3 linked regions of the Homo sapiens genome follow. The protein of the gene in region 1 interacts with the protein of each later gene in a pairwise test. Each region holds a gene or a part of one and is shown in the gene's direction. Other genes may lie near its edges.

Region 1 (3,648 bases):
CCACCTCCTGGGTTCAAGCAACTCTTCTGCCTCAGCCTCCTGGGTAGTTGGGACTACGGGTGCCTGCCACGATGCCTGGCTAATTTTGTATTTTTAGTAGAGACGGGGTTTCGCCATGTTGGCCAGGCTGGTCTCGAACTCCTGACCTCAGGGGATCTGCCCACCTCAGCCTCCCAAAGTGCTGGGATTACAGGCGTGAGCCACCGTGCCCATCCCACATTGAACACTAAATATGTGCAGTTTTACCGTATGTCATCTCTTCTTTCATAAAGCAATTACTGAGGCAGGAGGATTGCTTGAGCCTGGCCTGGGAGGTGGAGGCTGCAGTGAGCTATGATGGTGCCACTGCACTCGGCCTGGGTGACAGAGTGAGACCCTGTCTCTAAAAAAAAGAAAAAATAAAAGAAAGAAAGAAAATTTTGTTGGGATTCATGTGCAGTTGAAAGAAATAATGCAGAGACATCCCTTGTACACTTTGCTGCATTTTCCCCCAGTGTCAACATTTTGGACATTTCTTTTTCTTTTCTTTTTTGAGGTGGAGTCTCGCTCAGTCACCCAGGCTGGAGTGCAGTGGTGCAATCTCGGCTCATTGCAGCCTCCACCTCCCAGGCCAGGCTCAAGTGATTCTCGTGCTTCAGCCACCCGAGTAGCTGGGATTACAGTCACGTGCCATTACGCCCAGCTAATTTTTGTATTTTTAGTAGAGATGGGGTTTCACCATTTTGGCCAGGCTGGTCTCAAACTCCTGACCTCAGGTGATCCACTCGCCTCGGCCTCTCAAAGTGCTGGGATTACAGGCGTGAGACACTGCGCCCACCAACAATTGGGTATTTGGCTTTTATTGCAGCAACTGCTGAAAATCCAGTCTCACAAAGATGTGACATCTTCAAAAGGATGATAGCGCCCTCTCATGTTGAACTTGTGAACTGCCTTAAGCTAGCAGTTCATGTGGTATCTGACCAATATCAAGGTCTTCCTCAAAAATTTAAAACATCCTCATGCTGAGTCTTAAGTTTGCTGCAGCCTTCTGGGGTATCTTTGGTACGTGGATTAGTTTGTTAGGGCTGCTATGACAAAGTTCCACAAATTGGGTGGCTCGTATAACAAAAATATGTTTTCTCATAGTTCCAAAGGCCAGAAGTCCAAGATCAAGATGTAGGCAGGTTTGGTTCCTTCTGAGCAGTGTGGGGGAGAATCTGTCTGTTCCATGCCTCTCTCTCTCTGCTTCTGCCGGTTTGCTGGCAGTCTTGGGTACTTTGGCTTGTAGACATGTCACCCAATCTCTCAGCTCACTGCAGCCTCCACCCCCTGGGTTCAAGCGATTCTCCTGCCTCAGCCTCCCAAGTAGCTGGGATTACAGGCATGTGCCACCACACCTGGCTAATTTTTGTATGTTTAGTAGAGATGGGGTTTCGCCATGTTGGCCAGGCTGGTCTCGAACTCCTGACCTCAAGTTATCCACCCATCTCAGCCTCCGAAAGTGTTGGGATTACAGGCGTGAGCCACCACACCTGACCTCTGTCTTTATCCTTACGTGGCATTCTCCCTGTGTGCGTATCTATGTCCAAATTTCCTTTTTTGTTTTGTTTTGTTTTGAGACAGGATCTCCCTCTGTCACCCAGGCTGGAGTACAGTGGCTCAATCACAGCTCACTGCAGCTTCGAGCTCCTTGTCTCAAGGGATCTGCCACCTCAGCTTCCCAAGTAGCTAGGACTACAGGTGTGCACCACCATGCCCAGCTAATTTATTTTGTATCTTGTAGAGATGGGGTCTTGCTTTGTGGCCCAGGCTGGTCTTGAACTCCTGGCTTCGAGAGATCATCCTGCCTCAGCCTTCCAAAGTATTGGGATTACAGGCATGAGCCACCACACCCAGCAATTTCCCATTTTTCTAAGAACACCTCGTCGTAGTGGATTAGGGCCCACCTTAATTACCTCATTTTAATTACTTCTATGAAGACTCTGTCTCCAAATAAGGTCACATTCTAAAGTACTGGGGGTTAAGACTTCAACATGTGAGGTTTTTTTTTGGTTTTTTTTTTTTTTTTTTTTGAGATGGAGTCTTGTTCTGTTCCCCAGGCTGGAGTGCAGTGGCACAATCTCAGCTCACTGCAACCTCTCCTCCTGGGTTCAAGCAATTCTCCTGCCTCAGCCTCCCGAGTAGCTGGGATTACAGGTGCCTGCCACCACGCCTTGCTAATTTTTGTATTTTAGTAGAGGTGGGGTTTCGCCATGTTGGCCAGGGTGGTCTTGAACTCCTGACCTCAGCTGATTCACCCACCTCTGCCTCCCAGAGTGCTGGGATTACAGGTGTGAGCCACCGTGCCCGGCCAACATATGAGTTTTTATGGGACATGATTCAACCCATAACAGAGCACAAATTGAAGTGTTGAGCAATTCATTTATCTATTTAGTCTGCATGTTATGTTGAATACCTTCTTTGTCTCGGACAGGGAGAAAACACAAGACTCTGTGTCCTCATGGAACCCCCAGTTTGCTGGGAGAGACAGAGCACACCCCAATAAGTACAGATGAATACAGAAATGAGGACAGATTGGAAGCTGGTCTTAGGCATAAGCAGACCCAGGGCTACTAATGTCATCAAGTTCATTCTCACCGTCTCTCCGACTCTCATCTCCACTTCTGTCCACTGGCCTCATTCTCCCAGGACCCTCCCTGTGGTGGGGCCATGACAGGAGAAGTCCTGGAATCCCATCCTTCCATCTCATGTGCTTCCCCCAGACTATCAGGAAAGGAGTCAGGGCCGGGTGCAGTGGCTCTTGCCTGTAATCCCAGCACTTTGGGAGGCCAAGGCGGGTGGATCACTTGAGGTCAGGAGTTCAAGATCAGCCTGGCCAACATGGTGAAACCCCATCTCTACTAAAAATACAAAAATTAGCTGGGTGTGGTGGTACGTGCCTGTAATCCCAGCTACTCGGGAGGTTGAGGCACTAGAATTGCTCGAGCCTGGGAGGTGGAGGTTGCAGTGAGCCAAGATCGCGCCACTGCACACTCCAGCCTGGGAGACAGAGCAAGACTCTGTCTCAAAAAAAAAAAAAAAAAAAACAAAAAAAAAAACGGAAAGGAGTCAGGCTAGCTCCATGGGGTCACATTCCCATCTCTAGGCCAATCCCTGTGAGTGTCCAGACCTGGGTCATGTGGCTGATAGGGTGATACACTGTGGTTGGAAGGCCCACCAGAACCACATGGAGGGCTGGATAGTGTCAGCAGAAGGGTAGATGTTATTCTGGGGTGACAGGGACAGCAGATGTTTGCCATGCTTAGTGACTCATTTTCCCTGGGCCATTCAATCTCTCCCACATTCAGGCAACCAAAAACAGGTACCATCCTCTTTCTTGTAGATCCAGGAGTGGGAGACGCGGATCTTTACCCACAGTAAGAATGTCAGGTCCCCGGGATTCATCCTGGATCAGAAGGTCAAGATCAGGCGAAGGATCAGGATCCTAGAAAACCAGTTGGACAGGGTGAGGGTCAAACTCCTGGTCCCTCGACCTGAATTGTGCGGTTATGGGAAGAACTGGGCATGGTCATTGGATTCTGGAAATGCTGGGCAGTGTGTGCACATATGTGTCAGGACACAGGATTCTGGAGGGATGGAGGTTCCCAAGGAAAGGAGAATGATGGGTCC
Region 2 (4,273 bases), on another chromosome or scaffold:
GGTGTGGGAATGGGAGAGAGTTGGAATTTGAGGATAGAATCTTTCTATTTCTTGTCCCCTTATACTAGAAGGGACATTTCTTTGCCTTTTCTTGTCCTCGTATTTTTCTCCCCCTTATTCACTTGCCCACCCCCCCCCCATTTTCCACTCCTTCCTCTCCCTGTTCCCTAACCCCTTTCCCTGGCTAATCTCCAGAGAAAGGAGACTTGGTTTCTCCTCTCTCTGTCGAGAGTCAGCTGATGGTCTATCTGCCTATCTACCTCTAGTGACTGGAAGCTCTCAATAGTGGACTCCAGCTCTGCTCTACCCACTGGCCTGGTGGGTGTCTCCGTTCCCCCATTGCTGGGGCTTAGCATTAACTCTCAGTATCCTGACATAAATGACTAACTAGAGCCATTTATATTTGTCCAATATATCTGGTCACCTTGAACAGTGCCCACCTCTCCCTTGGCATATTTTCAGGTGTATGGTGCCAGTGGACTGGTATCCTTGCCACCTGTTAGTAACAAGGCTCCCAATGGAAGAATAAACATGGTCTGGAACTAAACTGGAAAGAATAGAGCTGATAATGATGATTACGATGATGTGGTGAGTGGCAGCGTTGGGGAGAATTAAGAAGGGAGAAGATAAAGGGAAGAAGAGGAGAGAGCCACACAGACCAAAGTCTGTGTGGGTACAACAGTTCTATTTTAAGATTACTGTGGGAAAACAAAGGGTATGATCCTGTCTGGATTGTTCTGACCCTCCCCTGTTTCTCTCCCCACCCCACTTGAAGCTCTGGGATAGCCTTCAAGGATAGGGTTGGAGATTCCAACCCTACCTCTTACTCTACTCTTGTGGCTCTTGGTGGGGAGGAAAAACGTCTCCCTGCCAATCGGAGACTCCCAGAATAGCACAGCAATTTGATCTGGGGATCTGGGAGAATTGTTAAGGATCATGAGTGACCTCCCCTCTTCCCTGTGCCCAAGCTCCTTGAATACCAGGAATCAAAAGCTAAAACTCAACTAACGGAGTTTGACCAGCATTCAACACAGTCTGGGGGAGAGTGAAACGGGAAGCTGAAAGGCAACCAGGACCCCCTGGATGCAAACTGCCAACCTAGAATTGCCAAAGTACACTTCTCTATTTCAATGTTCTTCCCTCCCCTCTTCCTCTTCTTTTAAAACATCCATAGAGCTGCCCAGAATGAGTGGAAAGTTTCAGGGTCAGGGAGAACCTCTTCCCTCCCCCACTTTCCATTGTCTAAAATCAGCCTCAGCTGTTGCTAGATATTTTTTTTGCTGGTGATGTCAGTTCATCAAAGCGTCTCACCCTGTGTTCCCCCAGGAGAACAATGATGGGGTGGAGGGAGCTGGAAAGACCATATTAGGAACAAAAGGTGGAGCTATGAGCACAGATAAAGACTCAAGTCTGGGGACCTCCTGGTCACTCAGGCAGCAGCCCCTTCTTTCTTGCCCCAGTCTCCAGTTCTCCAGTGTTCACAGGTGAGCCTACCAACAGCCACTGCTCATGATGGAGGCCATCAAGAAAAAGATGCAGATGCTGAAGTTAGACAAGGAGAATGCTCTGGATCGGGCAGAGCAAGCTGAAGCTGAGCAGAAGCAGGCAGAAGAAAGAAGTAAACAGGTAGGCACTGGCATTGATCTCTCTCATCTGCTAGTGAACAAGACTGTGAAATGGAAGGGAGTTTTCATGGGAAAGACAGTGACTACTGGTGTCACCTCCTTTTTGGGGGTGGGATGGACTCCCCAGCCTCACTGGAGGAGCAGAGGATATCTAACATATCTGTCTCAGACTGCCTTTGTGACCTTGGGAAAGTCAGTGAGCCACAGTATGTCTGCTGAATTTAAGTAGAAATGGACCATGTTTTGGAAGAACCCTTGACTTCTAGAGGAAAAGGTAAGAGTTCTAGAGGGAAAGAGCATCTCTTTTCACTCAAATAGCATCACGGGCATCTACACTTTAGATATTTATCATCCAGGGGTCTTGGATGAAAACCCAGGATGGCTTGGTCATCTTAGGATCAGAGATTACAGGGTCACAGGCCAAGCTACGGCATAACTCCTGAGGCAGTGGGCTGGAAGTGGCTGGGGAGAAAGTGTGTCTCACTAGGGATGGTAACATGGAGGTTACACTCAGGGCTCCAAGAGCCCAGGGTCCAACCCTGCATTGTTGTGTTTGTGTGTTTTTGTGTGTGACTCTCTGGGCTCCTATAGCTGGAGGATGAGCTGGCAGCCATGCAGAAGAAGCTGAAAGGGACAGAGGATGAGCTGGACAAGTATTCTGAAGCTTTGAAGGATGCCCAGGAGAAGCTGGAACTGGCAGAGAAGAAGGCTGCTGATGTGAGTATTAGAGAGATGGAGGATGGGTTTAATCTACACATATAGATCTTTATGTTAATGTATGACGAAATTCCAAACACACTTGTGGGTTCATGGAACACAGACATATATACTCACATACATTTTTGCATATAACCACATGCTGGTATATTCTCATAATGGCATGTATTTTCTTTCTTAAAGACATCTCCAACATGTTAAAAGTTTTTTTTTAATACATGTAAAGGTCTCATTTATCTCCTATCACCAACCCAGGAATTTAATTATCTTTCCCAGGACCTGGACAAAGAGAGGGGACTCTAAGTTCAGAATGCTGTCACTTATCCTACCTCCTCCCCCATGCCACATTCTTAGCTTTTATGTCCAAGTCTTGGCATGTGGATATGTGTATTAATAGGGAACCTCTCATCTCTCAACTGTCCAACAAAACCAGCTCGGATTTCACAATGGGAAATGGAGGTCACACTGACCCTGGCCATATATGGGTTTATTTATCTTGGCCAATGCAGGCATTTGCCTTTATGCCATGGAGATGCCATATGAAGCATTGCTCCTAGGGCAGCAGAGAGATCCCTACAGTGACAGAGTATAATAGAAACTAAGAAAGAATCTTAGGGGGTAAAGGTATCACCACCAGACTTCACTCTATGACCGTGAGTAATTACTCAGCTTGTCTAGGGCTGAATTTTCCCATTCTCAAATAAAATAAATTCTCTTTTCCATCTCATATTATCCCATCATCATCACCTACTTTCCTTCATCTTTAACCTTGAAGTTTGCTGCAAAGATAAATGAGAGAGTAGATTGAAAAGTTTTTTAGAAGAAAAGTACCATAGGAATCTTACCAACAACAACAGAAATGTCCCAGTATTGGTGGAAACAAGTTTCTCAGTGAACTGAGTTAATAGGAAAAAAGGAGCATGTAATATTTAAAATCATATTTGGGCTGGGTGCGGTGGCTCACGCCTGTAATCCCAGCACTTTGGAAGGCCGAGGCGGGTGGATCACCTGAGGTCAAGAGTTTGAGACCAGCCTGGCCAACATGGTGAAACCCTGTCTCTAGTAAAAATACAAAAATTAGCCAGGTGTGGTGGCGGGTGCCTGTAATCCCAGCTACTCAGGAGGCTGAGGCAGGAGAATCGCTTGAACCCAGGAGGCGGAGGCTGCATGGAGCCGAGATCGTACCACTGCACTCTAGCCTGGGCAACAGAGAGAGACTCTGTCTCAAAAAATAAGTCAATAAAATAAAATCACATTTGGTTTTGGAAAATAGCTAGAAGGACAGACAGAGTGAACCATTCATAAATGCTTTCGGATCCTCATATTTGGTCTCTCTGCCATCCGGTTTCTTTCCTTTTCTTTTCCTTTTTTTTTTTTTTTTTTTTTTGAGACAGGGTTTCACTCTTGTTGCCCAGGCTGTAATAAAATGGTACTATCTCGGCTCACTGCCATCTCCACCTCCCAGGTTGAAGCGATTCTCCTATCTCAGCCTCCTGAGTAACTGGGATTACAGGCACGTGCCACCATGCCTGGCTGGCTAATTTTCATATTTTTACTAGAGACGGGGTTTCATCATATTGGTCAGGCTTGTCTTGAACTCCTGACCTCAGGTGATCCGCCTGCCTCGGCCTCCCAAAGTGCTGGGATTACAGGCGTGAGCCACCCCGCCCAGCCAGGTTTCTTTTTATTGTTGTTGTTGAGATGGAGTCTCGCTCTGTTGCCCAGGCTGGAGTGCAGTGGCACAATCTAGGCTCACTGCAAGCTGTGCCTCCTGGATTCAAGCCATTCTCCTGCCTCAGCCTTCCGAGTAGCTGGGATTGCAGGTGTGTGCCACCATACCCAACTAATTTTTGTATTTTTTTTTTAGTAAAGATGGGGTTTCGCCATGTTGGCCATGCTGGTCTCGAACTCCTAACCTCAAGTGATCCGCC
Region 3 (3,648 bases), on another chromosome or scaffold:
CTTGGCCTCCCAGAGTGCTAGGATTACAGGTGTGAGCCATTATGCCCGGCCTATTTTTCAGCATTTAAAACCGTCAGGCCTGGCTGGGTGCGGTGTGCACCACCACACCTGCTACTCAGGAGGCTGAGGCAGGAGAATTGCTTGAACCCGGGAGGCGGAAGTTGCAGTGAGCCGAGATCGCGCCATTGCACTCCAGCCTGGGCAACAGAGTGAGACTCCATCTCAAAAATAAATAAGTAAGTGCTGAGAATAAAATAGGAGTTGTCAGCCAGGGGTTTGTGAAAGGTGGAACTGTCTTGGCCTCCTGGTGTAGTGAGCATTCCAGAGAGGCCTTCCGAAATGAACAATAAATGGGATAATGCCTCATTTTGTTCAGTAAGGAAGTGGGGTGGTGTGAGTTGTTCATTCAGTGCCAGGCACTTTCCTTGGTGCCACATACATAGAGATGACAGCACCAGGCCTGTCCTGGATGAGCTTCCCCAGCGAGAGGGGAATACCTATGATCAGGGCAGTGATAATGGTCAACTCAGGGGCTGTGGGATCAGAGTAGCCTGTGGGTGAAATAAAACACTTTCTCTTTTTTTTTTTTTTTTTTTTTTGAGACAGAGTCTCTGTCGCCCAGGCTGGAGTGCAGTGGCACAATCTCAGCTCACTTCAACCTCTGCCTCCCAGGTTAAAGTGATTCTCCTGCCTCAGCCTTCCTAGAAGCTGGGATTACAGGCGCACACCACCACTCCTGGCTAATCTTTGTATTTTTAGTAGAGACGAGGTTTTACCATGTTGGCCAGGCTGATCTTGAACTCCTGACCTCAGGTGATCCGCCTGCCTCGGCCTCCCAAAGTGCTGGAATTATAGGCGTGGGTCACCGCACCCGGCCAAAGAAAACACTTTCAACACAGCTTTGGGTTGTGATCGATCCCAGCTGTGCTTCTCTAATCTTGCACAGGTTTCTTAACTCGTATGGGCTTCAGTTTCTTTGGAAGGTGTGTTCTCTTTGCAGAGTTGAGGGGTGTGTTTGGTAAAAGCAGAGAAAGTGAGCCAGGGACTGGTGCGTTGTAGACGCTCCAGGCCATTGGTTCCCCTCCTTTTAGTTCTGAGTCCACATGGTGTTTGAAATATCCCCACAGCTTCCAATGCATGTTTACCCACATTGCCTTAGTTGATCTCTCCTAATAGCTTTGAGAGCCATAATCTCTCTTTTTCAGATGAAGAAACTAGGGCCCAGGCCGGGCGCGGTGGCTCATGCCTGTAATCCCAGCACTTTGGGAGGCCGAGACAGGCGGATCACGAGGTCAGGAGATCGAGACCATCCTGGCTAACACGGTGAAACCCCGTCTCTACTAAAAAATACAAAAAATTAGCTGGGCGTGTTGGCAGGCACCTGTAGTCCCAGCTACTGAGGAAGCTGAGGCAGGAGAATGGCGTAAACCAGGGAGGCGGAGCTTGCAGTGAGCCGAGATCGCGCCACTGCACTCCAGCCTGGGGGATAGAGCGAGACTCCGTCTCAAAAAAAGAAAAAAAGGAAACTAGGGCCCCAGAATAATCAGCTGGTTGGTGAGAAGCCTCTGTTTGAACCTTTTAACTTCCAATCCCATATCCTTTTATATGACAGTATATTTATCTGAGATATACTGAAATGAGTCACTTTTATTATGAGTCTTCTGATGAGGCCTGTGTTTTAAAAGTCTGGGATCTGTGAAGATTTCCCATGTGCAGAATCTCCTGGCATTACCATTTGGTGTGTTAATTTTTAAACATGGTAAACAGAGATAATAAGGGCAAAAGATTCCTTGGAAAGATGCAGGTCTGGGAAGCCAGTAGGGGATGCTGAGCGCTCTTTTGACTGACTGGATGCTTCCTTTCTCGCCTTTTGAGGTGGTGTGGACCCTGCAAGATCCTGGGGCCGAGGTTAGAGAAGATGGTGGCCAAGCAGCACGGGAAGGTGGTGATGGCCAAGGTGGATATTGATGACCACACAGACCTCGCCATTGAGTATGAGGTATGGATTGACAGGGAGTTGCCACAGGGAAGCCAGTATAGGAGGTGTCAGGCCCAGGGATAGCTGGTGTAGGAGGTATCTTGGGGAGCACAGGTAGCCAGTAAGCAAGGTGTCTTGGTTTTTCCAGAGCTTTTTTTTTTTGAGACGGAATCTCTCACTGTCACCTGGGCTAGAGTGCAATGGCATGATCTCGGCTCATTGCAACCTCTGCCTCCCGGGTTCACGCGATTCTCCTGCCTCAGCCTCCCAAGTAGCTGGGACTACAGGCGCACACCACCACGCCCAGCTAATTTTTTGTATTTTTAGTAGAGACAGGGTATCACCATGTTGGCCAGACTGGTCTGGAACTCCTGACCTTATGATCCACCCACCTTGGCCTCCCAAAGTGCTGGGATTACAGGCATGAGCCACTGCGCCCAGCCGGTTTTTCGAGAGCTTTTAAGAGCTCAGAGCACTTTGCAGAGGTGGCTCTTGATCCTCTGAGCCACCTGTCTCTCTTCACCACCTTTAGGAAGTAGATCGTATGACCCAAAAACACCAGGTCATTCACTTAGTCTCAGACATTGGTACATTCCTTTATCCATCTACCCACATGTTCAGTGAGCAGTCATTTGGGAGCTCGATGTGCCAAGCATTTGTGATTCTGACACAAGATGAGATCTTGTTTCCAAGCAAGATCTCTCCTAGTCTAGCAGGAGAGAACAGCAGGTAGAAAGATCATCTCAATATAGAAGTGCTAAAAGAAGAGGCGCATAAAGGAAGAAGGGACTGTTTGCTTGTGGGGGAGCTGGAGGGGACAGGGAATGCTTCACGTTAGAGAGAACCTCTGAGCTGAGCCATGAGGGATGCGCAGAGGAGGAGGAAGGGCTGAGGAAACAGCGTGCACAAAGACATGGAGTCGTCTCACTTGGTTGGTTGGTTTGTCTGTTTATTCAGCAGATATTTGAGAGTCCCTCAAGTGCCAGGTAGTGTTACTTGGTGTTGAGGATAAGGCAGTGAACAAAACTGACAAAATCTCTGCCTCCGTGGAGTCTACATTCTAGTATTTTAAATCAAGGGTCAGCAAACTTTTTCTCTAAAGGACTGGTTGGTATTGGAAGCATTGCAGGGCAGTGGTCGCTGCTACAACCATTCAGCTGGGCTCGTAGCCGAAAGCAGCCATAGACACTATACAAACAAATGGGCATGGCTGTGTTACAATAAAACTTTATTTACAAAAACAAGCAGTAGGCTGTATTGGGCCTGTGAACTATAGTTTGCTGACCCCTGTTTTAGATAATAAGTTCAATGGAGAAAAATACATCAGGAAGAGAGGATGGGAGTACTGCGTATGAGGCAGGGTTTTTGTTTTTTCGAGACAGAGTTTTGCTCTTGTTGCCCAAGCTGGAGTGCAGTGGCACAATCTCGGCTCACTGCAACCTCTGCCTCCCGGGTTCAAGCAGTTCTCCTGTCCCAGCCTCCGGAGTAGCTGAGATTACAGGCACGCGCCACCACGCCGGCTAATTTTTTGTATTTTTAGTAGAAATGAGGTTTCACCATGTTAGCCAGGCTGGTCTTGATCTCCTGACCTCGGGTGACCCACCTGCCTTGGCCTCCCAAAGTGCTGGGATTACAGGCGTAAGCCACCGCGCCCAGCGGGTTTCTTTTTT

What was found.
Region 2: the proteins of ODAD1 (region 1) and TPM3 interact in a two-hybrid assay, tested with the Homo sapiens proteins (one large-scale study listed by BioGRID).
Region 3: the proteins of ODAD1 (region 1) and TXN2 interact in binary tests that used the Homo sapiens proteins (3 or more experiments, as listed by UniProt).

The regions. Positions count from the first base shown.
Region 1 is NC_000019.10:48,311,830-48,315,477, reverse strand, and holds part of ODAD1 (outer dynein arm-docking complex subunit 1), read left to right. Parts: intron 1-3,361; coding exon 3,362-3,484; intron 3,485-3,648. UniProt on the Homo sapiens protein: Component of the outer dynein arm-docking complex (ODA-DC) that mediates outer dynein arms (ODA) binding onto the doublet microtubule. Involved in mediating assembly of both ODAs and their axonemal docking complex onto ciliary microtubules.
Region 2 is NC_000001.11:154,189,255-154,193,527, reverse strand, and holds the start of TPM3 (tropomyosin alpha-3 chain), read left to right. Parts: upstream 1-1,427; 5' UTR 1,428-1,509; coding exon 1,510-1,626; intron 1,627-1,794; exon of another isoform or gene 1,795-1,899; intron 1,900-2,216; coding exon 2,217-2,342; intron 2,343-4,273. UniProt on the Homo sapiens protein: Binds to actin filaments in muscle and non-muscle cells. Plays a central role, in association with the troponin complex, in the calcium dependent regulation of vertebrate striated muscle contraction.
Region 3 is NC_000022.11:36,475,084-36,478,731, reverse strand, and holds part of TXN2 (thioredoxin, mitochondrial precursor), read left to right. Parts: intron 1-1,875; coding exon 1,876-1,999; intron 2,000-3,648.